Linked DNA regions of Homo sapiens. The protein of the gene in region 4 interacts with the protein of the main gene of each other region in a pairwise test. Each region holds a gene or a part of one and is shown on either strand. Other genes may lie near its edges.

Region 1 (3,500 bases), on a different chromosome or scaffold from region 4:
CTCCCAAAGTGCTGGGATAACAGGCGTGAGCCACTGCACCCAGCTTCTCACCCCAGTATTCTTGTTCAGTGTATCTAGGATGTAATTTTAAAAACTCCTTCAGCTGACTGACATACAACCCAATTTGGGAATTCCTTAGTAAAAGAAAAGAGGTAAAAACAGTTTTCAGCTGGGTGCGGTGGCTCACACCTGTAATCCCAGCACTTTGGGAGGCTGAGGCGGGCGGATCACTAGGTTAGGAGATCCAGACCATCCTAACACGGTGAAACCCCGTATCTACTGAAAATACAGGTGTGGTGGTGCATGCCTGTAGTCCCCACTACGGGAGGCTGAGGCAGGAGAATCGCTTGAACCCAGGAGGCGGAGGTTGCCGTGAGTGGAGATCGGGCCGCTGCACTCCAGCCTGGGCAACAGTGAGACTGTGTCTCAAAACACAACAAAGAACAGTTTTCAATGTGAAGGGGAAATCGTTTTCTGTTATTTAATAGGAATTGCAGTAATACAGAGGCTGGGAAGAAAAACTGTCAGTGAGATAATAATCCTTAGAAGAGGAGGCAGAAGTGGGAGACAGTGAGAACATGAGGATGTGAAAAGCATAAATTATTAATTGGCTTGAAGCTTCTGAACAATGGAACTTTCCTCCTAAGTTATATCCTGCTGGATCTCTCTGAAATACTCATGGGTAGTTGGAACCTGACTTTTTAATATTTTATATTATCTACTTTCCTGCGTGTAGCATTGTTTTAAAATGTTCTATCTCTTTAAAATATATTTAAACAGCTTTATTGAAGAAGGTCAGTTTTAAGCAACATTTCCATATCTGGTATTTGTTATGCATTATACTAGGTGCTAGAGAAAAGTCAGATGCTTTTCTTGGCTTAAAGAGCATAGTCCAATATAGGGGTATAGGCATAATATCTGCCTACAGATGTCTGTAATGTGCATCAGTCATTAACATGACAGTCCAAAAACTTCAAATTGTACCCCATTATTTAATCAAAGTAGAAAAAGTCTACCAAACTGTCATGACCTATACATTTTACTGTCCAGAGACTTGGGGGAGATTTCTATTTTGGTGTCTAATTCTTTGTAATCTGTTATACTATGGGAATTTGTCTTCTTTTATCTAAAACCAGGTGGTCATGGGATATAATCTCCTTCTCCTTACCCTTACCTCTCATCCCCCCAATTGTGCACATCGTACACATTGTCATCTGTTTTTTTCTAGGGCTCAGGATGGGGTTGAGGCTTGCTTCTGAATTCTAAGTACTAATGAGGCCACCACTCAATCACTGTGCTAATGTACAACTGTCTGGTTCCTTCTTTCTTTTTTTTTTTTTTTTTTTTTTGAGACGGAGTCTCGCTCTGTCGCCCAGGCCGGACTGCGGACTGCAGTGGCGCAATCTCGGCTCACTGCAAGCTCCGCTTCCCGGGTTCACGCCATTCTCCTGCCTCAGCCTCCCGAGTAGCTGGGACTACAGGCGCCCGCCACCGCGCCCGGCTAATTTTTTGTATTTTTAGTAGAGACGGGGTTTCACCTTGTTAGCCAGGATGGTCTCGATCTCCTGACCTCATGATCCACCCGCCTCGGCCTCCCAAAGTGCTGGGATTACAGGCGTGAGCCACCGCGCCCGGCCCTGGTTCCTTCTTTCTGCTTCTTATCATGAACCTGAACTCCTAAGAGATAGGTCCATAGACAAGTATTCATATAATGTTAACCAGTTCATTTTTTCATTTAAGTATAGCTAAGTTTGTGCATATATATATCATTTTCTACGCCTCTTTTGCAGGTAGTAGCCATGGTTATGTGGGTTCCAGTAGTAGAATATCAAGAAGAACACATTTATGCTCCGCTGCTACCAGTAGTTTACTAGACATTGATCCATTAATTTTAATACATTTGTTGGACCTTAAGGACCGGAGCAGTATAGAAAATTTGTGGGGCTTACAGCCTCGCCCACCTGCTTCACTTCTGCAGCCCACAGGTAAAATAATAACAATGATAATTTCCTTTTTTTCTGTGGTTCTCTAAAAGAACTCTTGGATTTTCATTTAAGTATTTCAGCTATGTGTGGAACATGGTGTATTTCTGTGTTTTTCATTGTATACCATAAAAATGACATTTATGTCAACCAAATTAGTTTTTAAATTACCGTTCAAAGGTGATTTGTGCAAAAACAAAGTAAAAATGCCTGCAAGAAGGTTTTTTGTGACTTGCTACTCAGATTTTGCCTGACAGTTTGATCCATATGAAATACGGTTATCTTCTTTATGAATGGACTTTTTTTGGTCAGGCTTCATGAATTCCCTTACTTCCAAGTGGAACTATATCTAAATTGAACGTAGAAAAAGGTGACTTACTCATTCTTTGATGTTCAGTAGCTTAAAAATGTATGCCAGTTGGCAGCACTGTTTTCTGTGCAAAGGTTATTTGTTAAATAGAAATTACATTTGTGTTACTATAATAAAATGGAGATTTGTATAGTCAAATATGGGCTTTTTTAAACTCTCGGGGATAGAGTCATTTTGGACAACTAAGTATTTGCCTTTAAAAGCTACATTTTAAAAACCATTTTTGTTGGAATGCTTTCTAAAGTATAGTCAGTATATTCAAAAATATATGCCAAATATTTTTCTACCTTCTTAAACAATAGTATTATATACATCAAATCAATGATTTAGAACTCTGATTTTGATGTAGTTTTAAGGCAAGATAACTCATTTTTCAATCAAAGTCCAAGGCAGAACCTCTGTGTAAATAACAGAGAAATAGAGCTCTTCTACTGGTGTAGGGACATGGAGCCCAGATTATTTAGGCTTCTTCTTTCCTAAGAGCCAGATATACTTCCTGAAAGTCTGGATCCTCAGCTTAAAAGACTATCTTCAGGTTATGAAACAGTTGCCTTTTATGTGTGCGCCAAGTATGCTTTATATAAAGTTTTACTTAAATGTTAAGTGTTGTTTGCAAAGGCCCAGTGAAACAGACAGGTTCTGATTCTGTAGGTAGATATGTAAGTTGGTTTAACCTTTTTGAAGGACAATTTTGTAGTAGTTTAAAAATATCTATATCCTTTAAACTTGTAATTTCACTTTGAGGAGTATATTCCAAAGAGAAAACAAGCAGATGTTTAAAAATATTCAACAATACAGTTATAGCTGAATAAATTACAGTGTAACCATGCAATGGTATATTTTATAGACAAGTAAAATCGTGTTTTTGAAAATAATCAGTATCATTGGGAAAAATGCAAACTAAATAGTAAGATTTCTGTGTAAAACTAGTTTTCTGTGTAAAAACAATACAAATGAGATGATCTGAATTTCAAATTTAGGTGATAAAATGCTGGCAATAATGAGGGCGGGGAAAATAGTAGAAAGAAAAAGCAAGTTTTGGATTTAAACATCTTGAGTTGGGCATAACAGTGTGACATCAAATTAGAAAGGACCAGTAGACAGCTAAAAATTAAGAACTGGGGCTGGGCGCAGTGGCTCACGCCTGT
Region 2 (3,500 bases), on a different chromosome or scaffold from region 4:
GATGATCACAAATTTTTTTAGTTTCCTTTATGTTCTTGATTCTAACTGAAAAAGGAATGAGCTGAATATGTTCTTACAAGACATATTCCTAAAGTAGGTGTCTGTTTTTTGGTTTTGCTTAAGCCATTACAAGAAAAGTTTCTATCAATGTTCTAAAATAAGTGTTTTTGTTACCACAAAGACACCACTTTTAGTTGGTGTGCACACCATTGCCATGTGACTCTCTCCGTATCTGTCCGCATAGGCAGACTAACTGAAGCTCCCTAGCTGAGACACTTCGGCCAAGATACCCCAGTGACCATAGGGATGGAGCAAGGCACAGACTATAGTAGAGCTGAGAGACCCAACAAGAGACAGAAAGACATGGAAAAGGAGACAGAGGGAGGAATGGGACTGTGGTAGGGAAGAAAGAGAGGGGAGGAAGAGAGGGCGACAAAGCTAGGGACCAAGATGAGGAGAGTGAACATGGATGCAAGCATAGAGTGAGCCTGAGTAAGCAAGACAATGACAGAGAGTGGGTGAGCAAGTCAGAAACAAGCAAGGAGGCAAAGCAGCAAGCGGGCACAAGGACATGAGCCTGGACAGGAGAGTGAATGCACGCATGTGTGAGGGCAGGCGGGAAGAAGGAGCTGAGTCTAGATGCTGAGGAGAGGCTTCCTAAACAAGAGAGCAGGGTTCGTGGAGAGAAGCTGAAAGAGGCTAAATGGTACTAGGACACTGCATTAAGGTAGTTCAAACTTGATCAAAACCTATCTGCTTCTCATTATTTTAAAAAGTCTTAGGCCTACCTGAATTATCTCTGATTGTTCAGCCAGAGCCTTCCTTTGTGCCTCCAGTGAAGATACCTGTTGCTGATAAATCAAGCGTTGCTTCTCCCAGTCCAGCGATTTCTGACGGAATTCCTGAGGAGGCAATTAGAGTACTTAATTTCTGAGTGCTTCTCCTCACTGTCACTACTTCCCAGACTCCCTTTAACTTTAATTTCTCCCCATGTCCCTGGGTACGCTTGCACCTTTCTCCACAGCGGGAGCCCCATTACTCACTCAGCTAACAGAGCTGGAGAGTAATACTAACTTCCTCACATACTGTGCCTCTGGATATCTGTCTTTCTAAATTTAACACCCTGATGGTGAGGAGTATGACACGCAGATGTTAAGCACTGGATTCAGATGTTTTTCACTGATTTGCTGCCACCTAAGGGTTGTTATAATTTTCTAGTGAATTTTCAGAAAACTGATGCTAAGATAACTAAAATTTTAAAGTATGATTACAGATATCCCTCGCTATCCAAATTCTTGATATCCAGACCCAGGAATTGAACAGATTAAATTTTCAGATAAGTCCCTTGGTAACCCAAATCTTACTTCCCAGTATCTAAAACTAAGGAACCAAGTAGATTCAGATAACACAATATCCTTTGATATCCAAATTTGTATTATCTCAACAGAGGAACTGCAAAAGTTTGAATAACAAAGAAAATCTGTACCAAATTTTAACAAATATTTGTAACCCAAAGCCAAACAGTTCAAAATTAATGATGGATCAATAGTAACATCAAATTGCATGATCAAGAAAGTGATTTCAATATTTATGAAAATGGGGCAAATCAAAGGGAAAGGAAACTCAATCTTTCTATCACTGTCTTCCAGGACCCTCAACTCCAGAAGTCTCAGGCTCCTTAAGATAAGTGTTGTTAACCAAATTTCTGATATTCATTCATTCATTCAATCATTCTACTATATATGCCAGGTACTGCTTTAGGAGTCAGGGATACAATACTTAACAAAACAAACAAAAACCCTAGTCCTACTCAACTGGGGGCAACAGATGACACATTTCTTGTATGGTATAGCAGATGGTAATACACGTTTTGGAGAAAACAGAGCATGAAGTCTTCACAGTTGGGGTTGTAATTTTTAAAAGGGATGGCCAGACTGAGTGAAAAACATTTAAGTAAACACCTAGGGAGATGAGGGTGAAGTTACAATATTCTGGGTGGAAAGAATAGCCTTGAAATAAGAGCATCCTGGTGTGTTTAAGGGTGAGAAAGGAAATTGGTGTGGCTGGAATAAAGTGAATGAAAGGGAAAGTAGGAGAAGACAAGGTAAGAGAGATAACTGGGAATGAGACCACGTAGGCCATTAGGATAACAGATTTTTAAGAGAAGCTGCTGGAAGGTTTTTGTATAGGAAGTGATATAATTTGACTTACATTACAGCAGAATCATTCTGGCTATCATGCTGAGAAAAGAGAAGTCTAGGATGACTCCGAGGTTTTAGGTTGAGCAAATTGAGTTGTTATCAACTAAAACATGAATCAGTGTTGGGGAGATGAGGAAGAGAAAGACAGGACCTTTAGCTTGGACATGTTAAGTTTGACACATTTTAGACATCATAGTGGAGATAGGAAACAGGCAGTTGAAAGTTATTCTGTCATGAAGAGGCGAGGTCTTGGCTAGATATATAAATTTAGGAATTGTCAGCATATACACAGTGTTAAAGCTATGAAATTCAATGGGATCAATAGGGGAGTGAGCGTAGATAGGAAAAAAAAAAAGGAAAGGAAAGGTCCAATGACATGACCCTAGGTGGTTAAGGAATAATGGAGACTGAGGAGTGATGAACAAGGAAAAAATGAGAGAAATGTGGTTTTTCTCAAGCCAAGTCAAGAAAGTGGTTAAGGAGTTGGGAGAGACCAGCTCTCCTACAAAGCTGTAGGTAGGATGAGGAAGATAAGGACCAGCCCACAGGCTTTGGGAATGTGGAAGTCACTGGTGACCTCTATGTGAACAGCTTCTGCAGTGTGAGGGGACAAAAGCCTTATTGAGTGGGTACAAGAACAATGAGACAAGAGGAACTGGAGACAAGTATAGATGACTGAAGTAATTTTTTAGTTATAAAATGGAAGAAATAAAATGGGGCAGAGGAGGAAGAGACGGGTCAAGAGAGGATATTTAAGAGGAGGGAAATTTGGATGCTGGTAAAAAATATCCAGTAGAGAAAAAAAATTAAGGGTGCAGAAAAGAGAAGGTGAACTGCTAAGGTAATGCCTTGGGTAGAAAAGGGGGAGGGCATGCGTAGTTCCTCCAGGAAGGAAGGCAGGGTACATGGGCACAGATGCAGATAGGTGGGTGGACACAAGAGTTGGAAGTCTATAAACAGAAAGGAAGATATAACCCAAAGGTGAGGATGTGGGGAAAGGTGTTGAGAGTTTGAGGAGAAAAGCAGAAGTCTGAAATACTCATTGTGGAAAGTAGGAGATGAGAGGAAATACAGTATGATTCCAGGTAGCATTAGGACCCATTTGAGGTTAGTGACCATGAATTTAAAGTGAGAACAGACAGTATGATTAGGTTTTTCTCTAGCCACGTTCAGCGATACATGACAGGTAGAGAGTGGGCAGAAAGGTGGACTTAAGCAGAACTGTGATTCTGCCAAGCAAATATGAGGAAGCAAGAGAGGAGCACAGGAGATGAAGGGGAAAGTAAAAAATGTAATGAC
Region 3 (3,500 bases), on a different chromosome or scaffold from region 4:
AACCGGAATCATGGTTCAGCCAAAAGCCATCCAATGCAGTAGAGAAACGTCCTGGAGGGCGCAGGAGAAGACAGGGAGATGGGTCATTAGTCATTCTGGGTGTGGGGATTAGATGCCTGCCTCCTGCAGAGGAGAGGATGATACAGCCTGCAGCCTTGTGGTTTGCTGGATGCTCTAATGCCCAAATTCATTCCAGGTTCCAATGAGGCTGGGTTACAGGGCTGTTCCTAGGATCCTGCAAGATGTCTAACTCCTTACAACTGTGTATCTTCTTACAATAAGAACTCATCACTGATGAGACAGGAATCAATCTCTTTCTTGCTGGGAAGGATCTGAGAGAAAGATAAAATAATTCCCAGGCCACACATACAGGTTTTCTGCTGAGTTATAAGGTCTTTTTATCAGCAAAGCAAAACTTTCATTGGATAAAATCTCAGAGCAAGGACTTCAAGAGGGCTTCCACTATGTAAGAGAACTTCCCTTGGTCTTGAGGATATGAAACTCCTAACAGAAGCAAAAACGTTCCCACACATTATTCCTTTCTGTCATTCTCATCTGGAGGCCTGGGGTGGTGAGTGAGAGCGGGAGCATTAATAAGGACATTCACTGCCTTCATGTGGGTCATCCATTGTCATAAGAGTCTCTGATTCTGGCTGCTGGTGATATTGGGGGATGCCATGGACTGGGTGTTTGTTCCTCCCAACCCACCAAGTTTTTATGTTGAAATCCTAACCCCCAAGGTGATGGTATCAGCAGGTGAGGCCTCTGGGAGTTGATTAGGTCATAAGGGTGGAGCCCTCATGACGAAATTAGTGCCTTTATAAAAGGAACCCTGAGAGTTCTCTCATACCTTCTGTGGTGGGAGGACACAGTAAAAAGACAGACATCTATGAACCAGGAAGTGGGCCTTCACCAGAACCAAATCTGCCTGTGCCTTGATCCTGGACTTCCCAGGCTGCAGCACTGTGAGGAATACAATCTGTTGTTTATAAACCACCCTACCTATGGTTTTTATGTTATAGCAGCCCAAACAGACTAAGGCAGGGAGTTGCCTAATGAACTTTGAATAATCTCCCTAGATCAGCATTTCTTAAACTTTAATGTGCATGGGGATTATCTGGGGATCTTTTAAAAATGCAGATTCTGTTCCGAGAGTCTTGGGTATCTCGGGTAGAGCCTGAGATCCTGTATTTCCAGCAAGCTCCCAGGAGACATTGATGCCGCTGGTCTGGGGACCATGTTTTAAGAGGAGATTGTGATATGACCCCCGCTGTCAGAGTCGAGAAGAGCTGCTCTCAGTGTAACAGCATGTCATGAGTGCTCATTAAAATACATGTGTAAATCATGGCCTCCAAGGCTCTGAGAGCTATTCTGTGTGACTTGATAGGGGATGTAAATGAACACGCTCTCAATCACTTCAGTAAAAAGGAAAATATTTGAAAACTTATCCCTGAATTCCAAACCATTAAGAGACTGATGTCAGCAACTTTTTTTTTTCCTTTCATCCTAGCAAATTTGTGACTTTTGAGCTAGAAGAATAGACAGGCTAGAGGGCTGGGTAGGAAGGCTGGAGATAATTCCAGTTGGCCGAACTGTTTCATGAATAAAAGCTTAACACTTCACAATGAGGAAAAGGGCACTATTCATGACCAAGCATGTTACATGGTAACAGGCTGTGCTTCAGACTAGGTGTGCAGACTAGGTATGAAACCTGCCCCTCACAATGACCCACCAAATATGTTTTATAAAATCACTGGAGAAGTGGGGTGTTTATTATAGACGAGCAGACTTAAGAGTTGTTTTTAAAGACTCTGAAAAGCCTTGGGTTGATAAATACTGTATTTATTGTACAGGAAAGAGATGGGGGAAAGGAAACAGCCTTCTCCCCTCGCTGTTGACTGCATGAATGCATGTAAGGATTCCTTCTAAGGTACTGATAGTCCATTTACAAGACTCTCACCCTTAACTCTCACCTTTGAGAGAGGATGAGATTTGAGGTCATCCTGAAGACTAGCTCAGTCTCAGAACCCCTGCAGATGACCTTTCAGCCTGTCAGACATTCACTCACCATCCCGAGTCCCACTGCTTCTGCAACATAACCTGGAAAGCTCCACAAGCCATTGATTCTGCCTAGGGATTATCAAGGGCTGTGCAATAGGTCGCCTAAAGGTGGGAAAATCAGCTTTGGGATGGCTGCTGGTGGATTGATTACAAGGTGACCACTGGCTTTGCCCTTTAGGTGGTGGACATTTATCTTGGGCACTTTTGAGGCATGAGACTTTCCTGATTACCATCCTTATTGCCCTTGAACTTCTCGTTAGGATGACCACCTCTTTCTGGGTTACCTGAGACTTATACTAATTAGAAAGCTTTTCCTATAACCAGCTGATTTGCAACTGGGAGGTGATTTATTCTAATAACCTCATCACCTTCCCTCCAACGTCAGTCAAATTTCAAAGAGGAAGACAAAGGGGGAAATGTTCACTTGTGCTTGTGTAGCAGACAAGAGCTTGGGCGTCAACTCCAACCCACTTCTGAAGATGATGCTGAGAGGGAAATTGTGTCAGAAGTGCCCAGGGATAAGAAAAGCAAGAACTTTTGTTTCCCCTACTTAATCAGGCTACAAAGCTTGGGATTCCTTTTCTGAAACCAGAGGTGACTCAAAGAACCAAACTCCAAACTATACGCTAATAATGAACTTTGATATTTACAACAAACAAAAACAAAAGGGAAAATCTTGGTGGAAGAAGTCCACGTTGGACCAATCATTAATTTTGAACCCTTAAAAAAACAGGTACTAATATCTTAAGAATATCAAACTATGATCAAGAAATAACAAGCCTACTTTTTTTTTAAACTCTGATTTTTGGCAACCATCTTAACCAAGCAGGATTAATTCATGGCCTAGGAGCTCTTTGAGCTTATGTTTATTTATAATATTCAATATTCCCATAAGCACAAATGTTCCAAACGGAAGGCTGCATTTTGATAATGCCCATTTCTTCATTAAGATTTCATCATCCACCTACATTAAAACGCCTCTCCCTACACTTTGTTGCTTCGGCTTTCACCTTGTGTATTCCTGCTTTATTTGCTTAATCTTGAGATCTGGCTTCCCAGGCACTCTCAAATTTGAAACAAGCAAAGTTTGTGCATTAGCGTATCCTGGGCATGCATGATTTATGAATGGCAGGTTTCTTGGCACAATTTAATGGTACAAGAGAGACTTCGTTTTAAACATCAAAATGGAAGTCAAGAAGTGGCAACAATGGGTGGGGTAACAGAACATAGAGAACGGAAAGAAGTTTGGGTCAAGAGTGAACAGTTCTTACTTGGTCTGTTTCTTAGTCTTGTGGACTGATTCTCCGATAAATTATATGAAGCCCTAACATTTGACCAGCTAAAAAAGTATTTTAAATTGCTATTCTGATAACTTACCCAGACAGGCCCTCATTCTGCAAAAATTTTAATTGTTAATTTTATATATATATGAAGAAAAC
Region 4 (3,500 bases):
GGTCAGCTGAAGCACCTGAAATATCACCACACAGAGGACAGTGGGCACAGAAGAAAACAAAATTAAAAAAAAAAAAAAGAAAAGAAAACAAAATCAAAAGCACTCACTCTGAAAATGGGTCTGTAATTTGGCTGGGTGTGGTGGCTCACGTCTTTAATCCCAACACTTTGGGAGGCTGTGGCAGGCGAATCACTTGAGGTCAGGAGTTTGAGACCAGCCTGGCCAACATGGTGAAACCCTGTCTCTACTAAAAATACAAAAATTAGCCAGGCGTGGTGGCGGGTGCCTATAATCCCAGCTACTCGGGAGGCTGAGGCAGGAGAATCGCTTGAACCTGGGAGGTAGAGGCAGAGGCTGCAGTGAGCTGAGATCATGCCACTGTATTCCACCCTAGGCGACAGAGCCAGACTCCATCTCAAAAAAAAAAGTCTGTACTTCAAAACACATGAAGAGATACACTGCAAGAAAGACAGCCAACAAAACCAATGACTAAATATTATTCCAGGTGAAGTTTAACTTTACAGAACAGTCTGACATACTTATTATATAAGTACATTTAGGGTACTTGGACATAAATTTTAAAAATTATTGGGAATGCAAATGATACAGTCACTTTGAAAGATAGTTTAATAGTTTCCTACAAAGCTTGATATATTCTTACCATTCGACCCAGCAATCACTCTCCTAGGTATTTTCCCAAGTGAGTTACAAATTTAATGTCTACACAAAAACCTGCACACGGATGTTTATAGCAGTTTTATTCAAAAATTGCCAAAAACTAGAAGCAACCAAGATGTCCTTCAGTAGGTGAACGAATAAACAAACTGTGGTGCTTCCATAAAAAGGAATATTATCATTCGGCGCTAAAAAGAAATGAGCTGGCCGGACGCGGTGGCTCACGCATGTAATCCCAGCACTTTGGGAGGCCAAGGCAGGCGGATCATGAGGTCAGGAGATCGAGACCATCCTGGTTAACATGGTGAAACCCCGTCTCTACTAAAAATACAAAAAATTAGCCAGGCATGGTGGCGGACGCCTGTAGTCCCAGCTACTCGGGAGGCTGAGGCAGGAGAATGGTGTGAATCCGGGAGGCAGAGCTCGCAGTGAGCCGAGATCGCGCCACTGCACTCCAGCCTGGGCCACAGAGTGAGACTCAGTCTCAAAAAATAAAAATAAAAAAAAGAAATGAGCTATCAAGTCGCAAAAAAGACTTAGAGGAAACTTAAATGCATACTGCTAAGCAAAAGAAGCCAATCTGAGTAGGCTCCATACTACATGATTCCAAATCTATGACATTTCCAACTCTGGAAAAGGTAAAACTATAGCCATGTAATGACATTTATTCTGTCTGTACTGTTGAGTATTTTACAAGTGAGCCCCTTGCAGGGTTGTAGCATGCAGTCATGCCATGTAAATGATACATGACATTACGCACTTGTCAAAACCCATAGAACTATACAATACAAAGAGTGAACTCTAAATCATGAACTTTAACAACAATGTATCAATATTAGTTTATCAATTATAATAAATGTAGCATACTAATGCAAGATGTTAATAATAGGAGAAACCATATGGGAAAGAGTGGGTATATGGAAACTCCATACTATTCAGCCACATTGGTCAAAATTGTGTTAATCTATTTTTATTCCATTATGTATATTGTTTTAAAAACTGTATTACTGACAATTGCACTTGAGTACATACACAAAAGAAATGGAAACAGAGACTTAAACAGACATACAGATACCAATGTTCATAGCAGCACTCCTTGTAATGGCCAAAACGGGGAAACAACCCAAATGTCCATCAATGAATGAATAAACAAAATGTGGTATATTCATACCATGGAATATTATTCAGCCTTAAAAAGGAAATTTTCACACATGCTACAATATGAATGAACTTTAAGGACATTATACTAAGTGAAATCAGCCAGATACAAAAGGGCAAATATTGTAATGATTCCATTCATATGAGGTACCTAGAGTAGTCGAATTCATAGAGACAGAAAGTAGAATGGTGGTTGCCAGGCGCTGAGGGAAGAATGGGGAGCTGGTGTTTAAGGGGTACAGAGTTTCAGTTGGGGATGATGAAAAAGCTCTGGAGACAGTGGTGATGGCTGTGCAACAATGTGAATGTATTTCATGCTACAGAACTGTACACTTACAATGGTTAAAATTGTTATTTTTATGTTATGTGTATTTTACTATAATAAAAAAAGTTAGAGTGCTGAAAAACTGGTCATCCAAATTGAAAAAAAAATTGTATCTTTTCATTATACCATACATAGAAATAAATTCCATCTGGAAAGCAAAACTTTTTTAAACTTTTGGAAGAAACTCTAAGAATATATCATTAACACCATGAGAGACAGAAAATTTTCTTAAACCAGATACACACCCAAAAAAAGACAAGCCATTTAAGGGAAATTTTTCATAAATATGACATTAAACTTAAATGGTATATACAACCAAATACATTGTTAACAAAGGGAAAGAAAAGCCTAGGGCTGGCAGGATGCATTTGCAACACACAGACCCACTGAAGAATCAGCATCTAAAGGAACCCAACTGTTCCTCAGTGAGTAAAAGGACACGTGCGCTGTGATGTAAGTCCACAACCGGGCCAGGTGCAGGGGCTCATGCCTGTAATCCCAACGCTTTGGGAGGATCACTTGCCAGCCTGAGCAACATGGCGAGACTGCATCTCTACAAAAAATTTTAAATGGTGGCACGCAAGTGTAGTCCCAGCTACTTGGGAGAATCACTTGAGCCCTGGAGTGCCACTGCACTCCAGTCTGGGCGACAGAGGAAGACCCTATCTCAAAAAAAAAAAAAAGCCTACAACTGAATACACTAAGCAGTTGAAAATAAATGGATTAAATCCACAAGCAGCAACATGGTTATAGCCCCATCAGTTATGAAGTAAAACGCATACCTCTGACCCAGCAACTGTAGTTTTTCATTCACTGCAGCAACGGTCCTTAATGAGAATACTAAATAAACTACGATACATACTACATAAGAGATTGTGTAGTAGTTAAGAAGACTCAGGTTGATTCCTGTGTTCCAACATGAAAAAATCTCAAAATCATTCTGTTAGGGGAAAAAACTGCAGAACAATGTGTATGGTATGATGTCATTAATGCAGAGGAGAAAAAACTCTGCTCTTTTTTTATTCTGTATTACCTATATATACATGAAAATACATAGAGAATAGCCTGGAAAGACCACAAAAACTGATAACTTCTGTTTCTGTGAGTAGGTCAAGGGGGCCTTTATTCTGTCTATACTGTTTTGAGTATCAGATGAGTTTGTGTTCCCTATATATACATGAAAATACATAGAGAATAGTCTGGAAAGACCACAAAAACTGATAACTTGTTTCCGTGAGTAGGTCAAGGGGGCCTTTATTCTGTCTGTACTGTTTGAGTATCTGACAAGTGAGTGTGTGTTCTGAGCCACCTGCAGAGTTGCAGCACACAGTCACACAGAGTG
Region 5 (2,985 bases), on a different chromosome or scaffold from region 4:
CTGGTCCATGAAAGCAGGTGCCCAGGCCCTGCCGTGAATATGTTACATATCAGAAAGATACATAAGACAAAAAAGAAATCATAATAGGATTAAGAGAAACCAAGCAGGAGTGGGATAAGCCAAAATCTAATTTGTTTACAAGTTCTTACTGATATACACTACATGCTTGCGACTGTACTAAATCCTAGGGTATACATAAGATGTGTTAAGACATGGTTTCTTAGATGCTTAGTATCTAGTTAGGAAGACAAATCAGACACAGGTGAAACAGTGATCTAACAACATGAGGACATAAACAATGAGTCTGAGTCTGGGGTGAAAATAAAAGCCTTTTATCTGTTAGTTATACTATGTGATTAAAGGTAAAAATGAATGTTTCTTAAAAGGGAGAAGAGATCAATATGAGTAGCGAGAGAACTCTACCTCCTTTCAGGTAGAGGATATTTACTGAACCTTAAAAACTTGAGAAGCGGCTGGGCACGGTGGCTCATGCTTGTAATCCCAGCACTTTGGGAGGCCAAGGCAGGCAGATTACCTGAGATCAGGAGTTCAAGACTAGCCTGACCAACCTGGTAAAACTCCGTCTCTACTAAAAATACAAAACTAGCCGGGCGTGGTGGCAGACGCTTGTAGTCCCAGCTACTTGGGAGGCTGAGGCAGGATAATCACTTGAACCCGGGAGGCAGAGATTGCAGCGAGCCGAGATCACAACACTGCACTCCAGCCTGGGCAACAAGGGTGAGATTCCTTCTCAAAAAAAATGAAACAACAACAACAAAAAACTTGAGAAGCCAGGCTATACTGGTGAGACCACAATCAAGCCCCTCTCCCTAACAAGGATTGGCCTGTGACCCAATACAGGCCAATCATGGTATTCCCATCCCCCTTGGCAACTGTGACTGAGCCAAGGGATTAGGCGCATGAGGTAAGTTGGGCCAGAGTCATTCCCTGGGATCAATATATGGATTCTGTGTCTAAGAAATTTACTTTCTTCTGATCTCCTATTCTGAGAAAATGTATGGTTGGGCCCAGTGAAAGCTATTTGGCTAGCATATCATGAGAAGTGGAAAAGCAAGAGACTAGAGACAAGGAAAAGCATAGGAGAGAGACAGATGGATACACAGACACCAACAGGCACCAAATCCCCAGTTTTAGTCCCCGAGGCCCTGGTTTTTGCCGCTCTTCTTCCCATTATTCTGTGAGCTATTTCAGCATCTCTCCCAACTGCACAAGTCCCTGAATTGCCTTTTTTACTTAAAGAAGTTTGAGTAAAACTCAACTCTCATATTAACATAATCACATCTGGACATATTGAATCTGAGGTGAGAGTAGGAAATCCAAATAGAAGTGCCCAGAAAAACAGCCAGAGAGCTGGCACCGGAGCTCAAGTGAAAGGTCAAACTGCCAGGCAGCCCCAAAAAGGGGATGAAGGAGCTGCAAAAATACATTAGCTCTCCAAGGCAAAAAACAGAGAGAGAAAAACTGAACCTTCAAGGAACTCCTCCTCAGGAGTCTAGAAGATGAAAAGGAAGTGGCAAAGTAGACAAGGGCAATGGATGGAAAGTCAGACAGCTGGAACTAGGTAAGAATTAAAAAGGCAAGACAGTAGGGAGACAATAATTCACTGTTATAATGAAATCAAGAAAGGATGGTAAAACAATTCATTTTCATCATACACATAAGAGATAGCTAAGTGCCTATGTGTCATCGCTGTGGATACCACAGTTTGCTAAACAGAAGTGGTCACTACTCTCCTGGAACTGACAGTCTTGCTGTGCAGACAGGCATTAGGTGATCAAGCACACATGCTATTACACTTCAGTAAGTGCTATGAAAGCAACTGACCTAGTCTGTAGAGCTGGAAAACATGTCCTGAGGAAATAATATCTCAGCTGGGATCTGAAGGATTAAGAAGGGCCTCTTCATAAAAAACAAGCCTGGGGGCAGAAGTGTGAAAAGTAGGTTGTATGAAGGAAAATGTCTTATTCTTGTTCTTTACTCAGAGGGCAACAGAAGGAATGGCCTGGTAAGAGGAAGAAGTGCTTATATGTGGGTGCCAGGGTGAGATGCTTTCTGTCTGGAAGGTCACTGAGCCTATGAAAACTGAAATCTGTTCTGTCAGTCACTCTTGGTGAGGGAAATATGTTTTTTTGGTTTTGGTTTTTTTCTTTTGCACTGGGTTACTGGGTTTGTGGATTTTCCAGGCTCTACTGGTAGGTCATCCATCTTCTTTTCCCTCCTGCTCCAGAGTCATCAGTCACTTGATGGCTTGTGCAGAATGTGGTAAGGAGACAGAAGTTGAAACTCAGGTCTCAAGATTCTTCTCAATAATGTGTTAATTTCCATGCAAAATGTGTTAATTTCCATGCAAATGCACTTTTAAATAATTTGAGTCCTTCCTGGACATAGGAGAATGCATTTTTTTTTCTTTCTTTTTTTTTTTTTTTTGGAGACGGAGTCTTGCTCTGTCGCCCAGGCTGGAGTGCAGTGGTGCCATCTCGGCTCACTGCAAGCTCCGCCTCCCAGGTTCATGCCATTCTCCTGCCTCAGCCTCCCAAGTAGCTGGGACTACAGGTGCCCACTACAATGCCCGGCTAATTTTTTGTATTTTTAGTAGAGACGGGTTTCACCGTGTTAGTCAGGATGGTCTCGATCTCCTGACCTCGTGATCTGCCTGCCTCAGCCTTCCAAAGTGCTGGGATTACAAGCGTGAGCCACTGCGCCCGGCCAAGAATGCATTTTATACTGGGTTATAAGGTTTGAAGAATGCTTTACACATTTTTACACAAGGTGGCATGAGAAATTAAAAATTGTTTTTTAATTAAAGAAAGAGACTGCTTTACACACACTCTATACTAAAGGAGCTGTATTTCTGACAATGTATAACAGAGGATGAGGGTGGAGAGAGGCAAAAGGAGGCAGAACAGAGGATATGATAATAAAAGGTGCTTTACATACATTCTCTTATATGTTTCTCACAATGAC
Region 6 (3,500 bases), on a different chromosome or scaffold from region 4:
CTCCCAAAATGTTGGGATTATGGGTGTGAGCCACTGTGCCTGGCTTCTTAATCATTTTAAAGTGTACAGTCCAGTAGTGTTAAGTATAGTCAAATTGTTGTGTAAACAAATTTTTAGAACTTTTTCATCTTGCAAAACTGAAACTATACCTATTGAATAGTGACTACCCATTTTCCCTTCCCTTCAGCCCCTGGCAACCACAGTTCTATTTTCTATGAGTTCAGCTACTTTAGATACCTCATATAAGGGAGATTATACAGTATTTGTGACTGGTTTATTGCATTTAGCATAATGTCCTCAAGGTTTATCCATGTGTAGTATGTGACAAAATTTCCTTCTTTTTTAAGGCTGAATGATACTCCATTGTATGTATTCATTTTCTTTATCTGTTCATCTGTGGATGGACATCGAGTTGCTCCCATCTCTTGCTATTGCGAATGATACCGCTGTGAACATGGGTGTCCAAATATCTCTTTGAGATCCTGTTTTGAATTCTTTTGGATACATACCCAAAAGGGGGATGACTTTGTTCCTTTTTTAACACAAGCAAATATTCTGTAAGTTAAATTGCATAATTGGAAAAGATAACATTAATTTTGGGTTAAAAACTCGACATTGGCTGGGTGTGGCGGCTCACGCCTGTAATTCTAGCACTTTGGGAGGCTGAGGCGGGTGGATCATTTGAGGTTAGGAGTTCGAGACCAGCCTGACCAACATGGTGAAACCCCATCTCTACTAAAAATTCAAAAAAAAAAATTAGCTGGGTGTGGTGGCGGGCACCTGTAATCCCAGCTACTTGGGAGGCTGAGGCAGGAGAATCGCTTGAACCCAGGAGGTGGAGGTTGCAGTGAGCCGAGATTGCGTCACTGCACTCTAGCCTGGGCGACAGAGTGAGACTCCGTCTCAAAAAAAAAAAAAAACGCTCAATATTTGAAAGCATGAGAAAAATTTAAACCGTTCTGAATACTTCTTTTCTAAAAGTAAATATTTCATAGTGATAATAGTTAATGCCAGCCCATTTAAAATTACAAAAATGCACTTAGTTGATTTTGCAATAACCCCAAAACTACATCATTTGAAAATAAAAGCAAATAAGTTGGTGAAGAATATTTACTTTTGTGTGAATTGTACTGTGGACTCTGCACTGTTTCTTTTTGCATATAAGCATAAGTAACTTCTCTCAGGTTATAGCATTTTTAAATTCTAAAAGATCATTTAGACAGTAGTTTTGCCATTTTTATTCCCCTAGAAATGAAAGTTATACTTAAATAGGAAATTCATTTTTGAGAAATAGTAATTTAGGAAGAAGACCTTTATGACATTTTAGATGTCACTTTGCTTGATATATTTGCTCCCTCTAGTGAGTATTCCTGCCCTTGTTTGCAATATTTTACAGATTTAAGGCAAGAACTAGCAGTTCGGGAAAGACAACAGGAAGTAACTAGAAAGTCGGCTCCTAGCTCTCCAACTCTAGACTGTGAAAAGATGGACTCCGCCGTCCAAGCATCACTTTCTTTGCCAGCTACCCCTGTTGGCAAAGGAACGGAGAACACTTTTCCTTCACCGAAAGGTTTGTAATGTCTTTTCTTTTTGAGGCGATGTGTTAGATGATCAGCTTACGGGGGTTTGTTGCTGAAGGCGGTTGCTAAGGTTTAAAGAGTAATTTTAGTTTAAAAGTTGGTGAAGTCTAGTGCTATGTGAAATAGAAGAAGGAATTGTTTTCCTAGGCCACTAATATATAGGAAACAGTGAAATGATGGTTACATTTAAGATGAGATTTTTAAAAGTTAAAGGTTTTTAAGGAAAGTTTATTTTTTGATGATAGCAATAGATTTTGTGATTACAGCCGTATGTTTAGGTAGAAAATTTTAAAAACACAGAAAAAGAAAATAAAAATCATGTTATCTTACCACTTACAGGCACCCACCATTAACATTTTGAGTTTTTTTTTCTATTGTGTGCTTGTGTGTGTTTGTGCACATCTCTTTGTCACATGCAAATTTGGGGATCATATTTAAACACAGTTTTATTTCTTCCTTTTGCCACTTTCCATATCATGGGAGACCTGAGGCCTTTCTACATAGAATGTACAGAGAATCATTAAGTTATCTTTCAGACTCATGTAAGACCGGCTTGGATGGACATGCCCATTCTGTTACATGCTTCAGGAGCTGCCATTTTCAAAAGCATTGTTCGGAGTAATTGATGATTGGCACATACAGAATACTCACATTGCCATGAACCAGTGTGTTTTTTTAAAATCCGGATAAGCAGAAAAACCACCTAGTAGCCACTAGATAGAACCTTAAAATGGAATCTTAAAGCTCTCAATTGAGATTTGTTTAGATTTTGCAGCTCGTAGTTCATATTTCTGCTACTCTCATCCCCCCTTGCTTTTTTTTTCCACCCTATATTGAAGCTGTCATCCCACCCTTTTTAAAATATAGGGTTTTATCTTTTAGAATGCTATGTGGGCAACTAGTACAGTGAGCTCTCTCTGTCTGTGCTACTCAATAGTCACCAGCCCATGTGGCTATTTAAATTTATATTAAAATGAAATAAAATATAAAATTCAGTTTCTTTGTCACATTAACCACATTTCAAGTGCTCAGTAACCCTTGAGTAGGTAATTCAACTTGTCTTTGCCTTGTTACGAGATGATATCAGATAAGGTATGTGAAGGTGCTGTATGGTTGTAAGGTGTTACTAATTGCGCTAGGTTTACTGCTGAGGACAAAGGGCAGGCAATAGATTATTAGCAGTCATCAGGAGCCCTCACGGTCAGTTTTTCAGAAGAGCTGCTTGTATATTTGAAGATTTCACAATTACACCTGAGGACTAACAAAGTTTTACTTTTATGTTACTGATTAGAATTATGCAGATCTGAAAATCCTTTAATTGAAGACGAATCAGAATAGTGAAAAGCCTCAGGTGCGGTGACACCCACAGGTGGTGCACATTTTTTTTTAATAGCCCGTTAGAGTTTTCATTCAGGGACTTGGGGAGTCAAAAGGACATGGAGCCTGCTGTGGCACGGCATGAGGTGTGCCAACCCTATGGCAGTAATATTTGCTTAATAGATATGTTTTTAGGCTGGAACCAATAGCATGAATTTTCACTGGCTAACCTAAAAGCTGCTGTGTACTAGATCACTGCAATTTCATTACAAGAAAGCACAGAGTTGTGAGCAGCAGCAGGTGGTCAGAGAAATCGGTAAGATCTTAGAGCTGATCTTTCTGAAGTGGTCTGTCTTTAATTGTATTTTACCTTTTACAATGTTTGTTTCTCTTTCTTTCTTTCTTTCTCTTTCTTTCTTTTTCTTTCTTCCTTTCTTTCTTTTCTTTTCTTTTTCTTCTCTTTTTTTTTTTTTTTTTTGACAGAGTTTTGCTTTTTTTGCCCAGGCTAGAGTGCAATGGTGCGATCTTGGCTCATTGCAACTTCCGCCTCCTGGGTTCAAGTGATTCTCCTGCCTTGGCCTCCCAAGTAGCTGGGATTACAGG
Region 7 (3,500 bases), on a different chromosome or scaffold from region 4:
TGTCTGGGAATCCTTAATTCACATTCTGATATTTAAAAAAAATAATACATGGTGTTAAAACACCAGGAGAACAATTTGATATAAAAATAAAAGCATTTCTTTCTACATTTTAGCATGGAAATAACCAGCCTGCAAGAACTGGCACACTGTCGAGAACAAATCCTCCTACTCAGAAACCGCCAAGTCCTCCCATGTCAGGCCGGGGAACACTGGGGTAAGAATTCAACTACATTTTGCAAAAGAATTCATATGCTAAAGGAAAAGATGTTTCTGTGACTTAAGTAAGTGTATGGGATCCATGCCACACTACCCTCTCTATGTGACGCTACCTTTTACAAATTCATTTTAATTCCTATTTTCCTGAACAGAATCCCAAATGAATCTGCCAGCTTTGTAATATTCTCTATAATCTGTACTAGGAAAGTTTTTATGTATGTATAAATGGCATGATTTATTTTTTTGTCATCTAATTTTTAAAAAATATAAATCTGACTTGTTTGTTTTAAATGGAATGATTAGAGTATTCCAAATGGTGCCTTTGCATGTGTTTACAGTATCTATATTGTAGAACTTTGACTAGTGGTCTACTTTTGTGTAGTATGGCTTAGTCCACAGCTCTTCTGTTTCGCCTATTGGTGTCTGAGACTTAGGGACTCTTTACTTTAGGAAAGTATGCACTTTACTTGTAACTATGCTTCTGCTGGTAATCTTAGGCCTCTTCACACTAGAGTAGCTCCATGGGAAGGCCAGTTGGGCAAGTAGAAAAGATAACAGTGGCTTCTTCCTTCCTAGTTCTCAGTGTACTAAATATAGCGAATACTTGTCAAAGCATTATATTTCTTTAAGGTTGTTTTTCTTAATACTGGAAATATTATATTGGATTTCTTATTTTTTGGCAGAGGGGTTGTTCAACAATCAGTCTTCTTTTAAGAAGGTCTTAGTTTTCATTTTTATTCATTAAACCCTCTGCCCCTGAAAAAAAAAATGAAGTTATTAAACAGAATAGTCGAAATCATTTATTGAGAAAGTAATGATTAGAATGTATATCTCCATTTATTGCCATATTGAGATGGGAATAAATTGCAGCTTCCTATGTAAATAAATTTAGCTTCCTGTTTAAAGAACAGTGGCTTATGGGTGACTGTACTGAGAAAAATGTACATTTTAAAGTTTGCTATTATTGAGCATTTAAAAAATTATAACCATAATTTTTAGAAATAAGGTTAGGACTTTAAATTACCCTTTCCTATGTTTTTCCTAGGAAAAGGTAACAAATTTTAGTTTTCATGTTAAAGTAACAAAATTCATATATCCCAGTGAAGAATATTTTTTAAAATTACAAACTTTGTCATATATATTTTTAAATCCTGGTATACATGGTCACAAAGGGAGACTCACATATTTTTGGGAAAAATACAATTTTATCTTTTTTATTCATTATTCCTTTCTCCACTATGCTCCTTTAGACGGAATACTCCTTATAAAACCCTGGAACCTGTTAAACCCCCAACAGTTCCTAATGACTATATGACCAGTCCTGCTAGGCTTGGAAGTCAGCATAGTCCAGGCAGGACAGCATCTTTAAATCAGAGACCAAGGACACACAGGTAAGCCTTTAGGTTGAGTATCTCAACATCTCTAAAGTGGGTGTAACTGACTGGCGACAAACTCCTATGGAGGTGCTGAGTAAAGGTGAGGTGCCACTCTAATGCTAATATAAAATGTAAAAGTTGGGGGAATAATATTATATATGTTCCTGTAAGTTTGTGTTATAACTTCTGTTTTGTTTTGTTTTTTTAACTTTTTAAAACATCTATTTGTACTATTAATGGATTGTTTGTATTTCCTCCTTTTGATAGAGGTACAGACTCTATCAGACTCTACGGGTTAAGACTAAAGAATTTTTTTCTTTTTTTTTTTGTGACGGAGTTTTGCTCTCGTTGCCCAGGCTGGAGTGTAGTGGTGCGATCTCGGCTCACTGCAACCTCTGCCTCCCAGGTTCAAGCGATTTTCCTGCCTCAGCCTCCCAAGTAGCTGGGATTACAGGCCTGAGCCACCACGCCTGGCTAATTTTGAGTTGAGACGGGGTTTCTGCATGTTGGTCAGGCTGGTTTCCAACTCCCAACCTCAGGTGATCCTCCTGCCTCGGCCTCCCAAAGTGCTGGGATTACAGGTGTGAGCCACTGTGCCCAGCCCTAAGAATGTTTTAAAATGCTCTTTTAAAAAAATTCAAGGCAAACCACTCAAATACTTTTGGAGAAAAGATTAAATATCATAGGAATTATACAACGTGATTTAAACTTTCAGAGATTGAAGGAAAGAAGATTAAGCTTAAATCTGAGGGAGATTTTTTTAAGAGAATCAGTATACTAGAATATGTTGTTATAATAATAATATTATTATTATCTTTTTGGAGATGGAGTCTAGCTCTGTCACCCAGGCTGGAGTGCAGTGACGCGATCTCGGCTCACTGCAACTTCTACCACCCAGGCTTAAGCAATTCTCCTGCCTCAGCTTCCAGAGTAGCTGGGATTACAGGTGCATGCCACCACGCCTGGCTAATTTTTGTATTTTAGTAGAGATGAGGTTTCACCATGTTGCCCAGGCTGGTCTCTAACTCCTGACCTCAGGTGATCCACCCACCTCGGCCTCCCAAAGTGTTGGGATTACAGGCATGATCCACCGCTCCTGGCCTTGTATTTATTATTTTTAAATGTCCTAAAAGTCAATTACCCGGTGGGTTTTTAAAAATTTAGTTACAGAGCATAACAAGCATTCAGAAAAGTATCCACTTCAGTAAGTATACAGCTTGATGAATGGACACACACTCATATAACCATCACCCAGATCAGAAAATGGAACATTACCAGCAACCCAGAAGCCCCTCATGCTCCTTCCTGGTTATCGCCTCGACCTTCTTCCCCCAAAATATAGCCACTTCAATTTTTGAGTGCTTTATAAAACCAGATAAATTTATTATATAACCAAATTTGTTTTATTCTTCAGTTTTCTCTCTCACTTAATAACGTGGGCAGGGAACCTCTCTTTTGCCTTCACTCTTAGGTTGGTAAATGAGAGATAACTTATCAAAATGATTTATGGGAATTCCACTAAATAGGGTATATCAAGATGCGAGATGCTAGGTAAGCGGTATTTATTACTATTGGTGCTGTTAGTAAACAAATTGTTAAGTTGATATCTGCAGTTACTGTATCAGGTCAAGTTCTTTGAGGAACAAAATTGTTCTCTTTGTTGTTATTGAACTCTTGGATCAAAGTATAGTTTTTCTCTATAGTGGAAGCATAGTTTAATCATATTCAACAAGCAGTTATTAAGTGTTGTTTCATTAGATACTAGGCATTTGTCAATAGGGCATAGTTCTTTTTTCAAGAGCTCATTCTGTTAGAACAGGGATCAGCAAACTTTTTCTATAAAGGGCCAGATTGTCAATATTTTAGGATTCGTGGGCCATATATATGGTTTCTGATGCAATTACTCAG

What was found.
Region 1: the proteins of DTNB (region 4) and TRIM37 interact in binary tests that used the Homo sapiens proteins (3 or more experiments, as listed by UniProt).
Region 2: the proteins of DTNB (region 4) and CEP63 interact in binary tests that used the Homo sapiens proteins (3 or more experiments, as listed by UniProt).
Region 3: the proteins of DTNB (region 4) and POU6F2 interact in binary tests that used the Homo sapiens proteins (3 or more experiments, as listed by UniProt).
Region 5: the proteins of DTNB (region 4) and TSACC interact in a two-hybrid assay, tested with the Homo sapiens proteins (one large-scale study listed by BioGRID and IntAct).
Region 6: the proteins of DTNB (region 4) and NDEL1 interact in binary tests that used the Homo sapiens proteins (3 or more experiments, as listed by UniProt).
Region 7: the proteins of DTNB (region 4) and ABI1 interact in binary tests that used the Homo sapiens proteins (3 or more experiments, as listed by UniProt).

Annotation. Positions count from the first base shown.
Region 1 is NC_000017.11:59,030,381-59,033,880, reverse strand, and holds part of TRIM37 (E3 ubiquitin-protein ligase TRIM37), read left to right. Parts: intron 1-1,790; coding exon 1,791-1,985; intron 1,986-3,500. UniProt on the Homo sapiens protein: E3 ubiquitin-protein ligase required to prevent centriole reduplication. Probably acts by ubiquitinating positive regulators of centriole reduplication.
Region 2 is NC_000003.12:134,534,557-134,538,056, reverse strand, and holds part of CEP63 (centrosomal protein of 63 kDa), read right to left. Parts: intron 903-3,500; coding exon 789-902; intron 1-788. UniProt on the Homo sapiens protein: Required for normal spindle assembly.
Region 3 is NC_000007.14:39,208,409-39,211,908, reverse strand, and holds part of POU6F2 (POU domain, class 6, transcription factor 2), read right to left. Parts: intron 1-3,500. UniProt on the Homo sapiens protein: Probable transcription factor likely to be involved in early steps in the differentiation of amacrine and ganglion cells. Recognizes and binds to the DNA sequence 5'-ATGCAAAT-3'. Isoform 1 does not bind DNA.
Region 4 is NC_000002.12:25,667,078-25,670,577, forward strand, and holds part of DTNB (dystrobrevin beta), read right to left. Parts: intron 1-3,500.
Region 5 is NC_000001.11:156,341,526-156,344,510, reverse strand, and holds part of TSACC (TSSK6-activating co-chaperone protein), read right to left. Parts: intron 1-2,985.
Region 6 is NC_000017.11:8,449,384-8,452,883, forward strand, and holds part of NDEL1 (nuclear distribution protein nudE-like 1), read left to right. Parts: intron 1-1,396; coding exon 1,397-1,570; intron 1,571-3,500. UniProt on the Homo sapiens protein: Required for organization of the cellular microtubule array and microtubule anchoring at the centrosome. May regulate microtubule organization at least in part by targeting the microtubule severing protein KATNA1 to the centrosome.
Region 7 is NC_000010.11:26,766,959-26,770,458, reverse strand, and holds part of ABI1 (abl interactor 1), read left to right. Parts: intron 1-113; coding exon 114-214; intron 215-1,466; coding exon 1,467-1,607; intron 1,608-3,500. UniProt on the Homo sapiens protein: May act in negative regulation of cell growth and transformation by interacting with nonreceptor tyrosine kinases ABL1 and/or ABL2. May play a role in regulation of EGF-induced Erk pathway activation. Involved in cytoskeletal reorganization and EGFR signaling.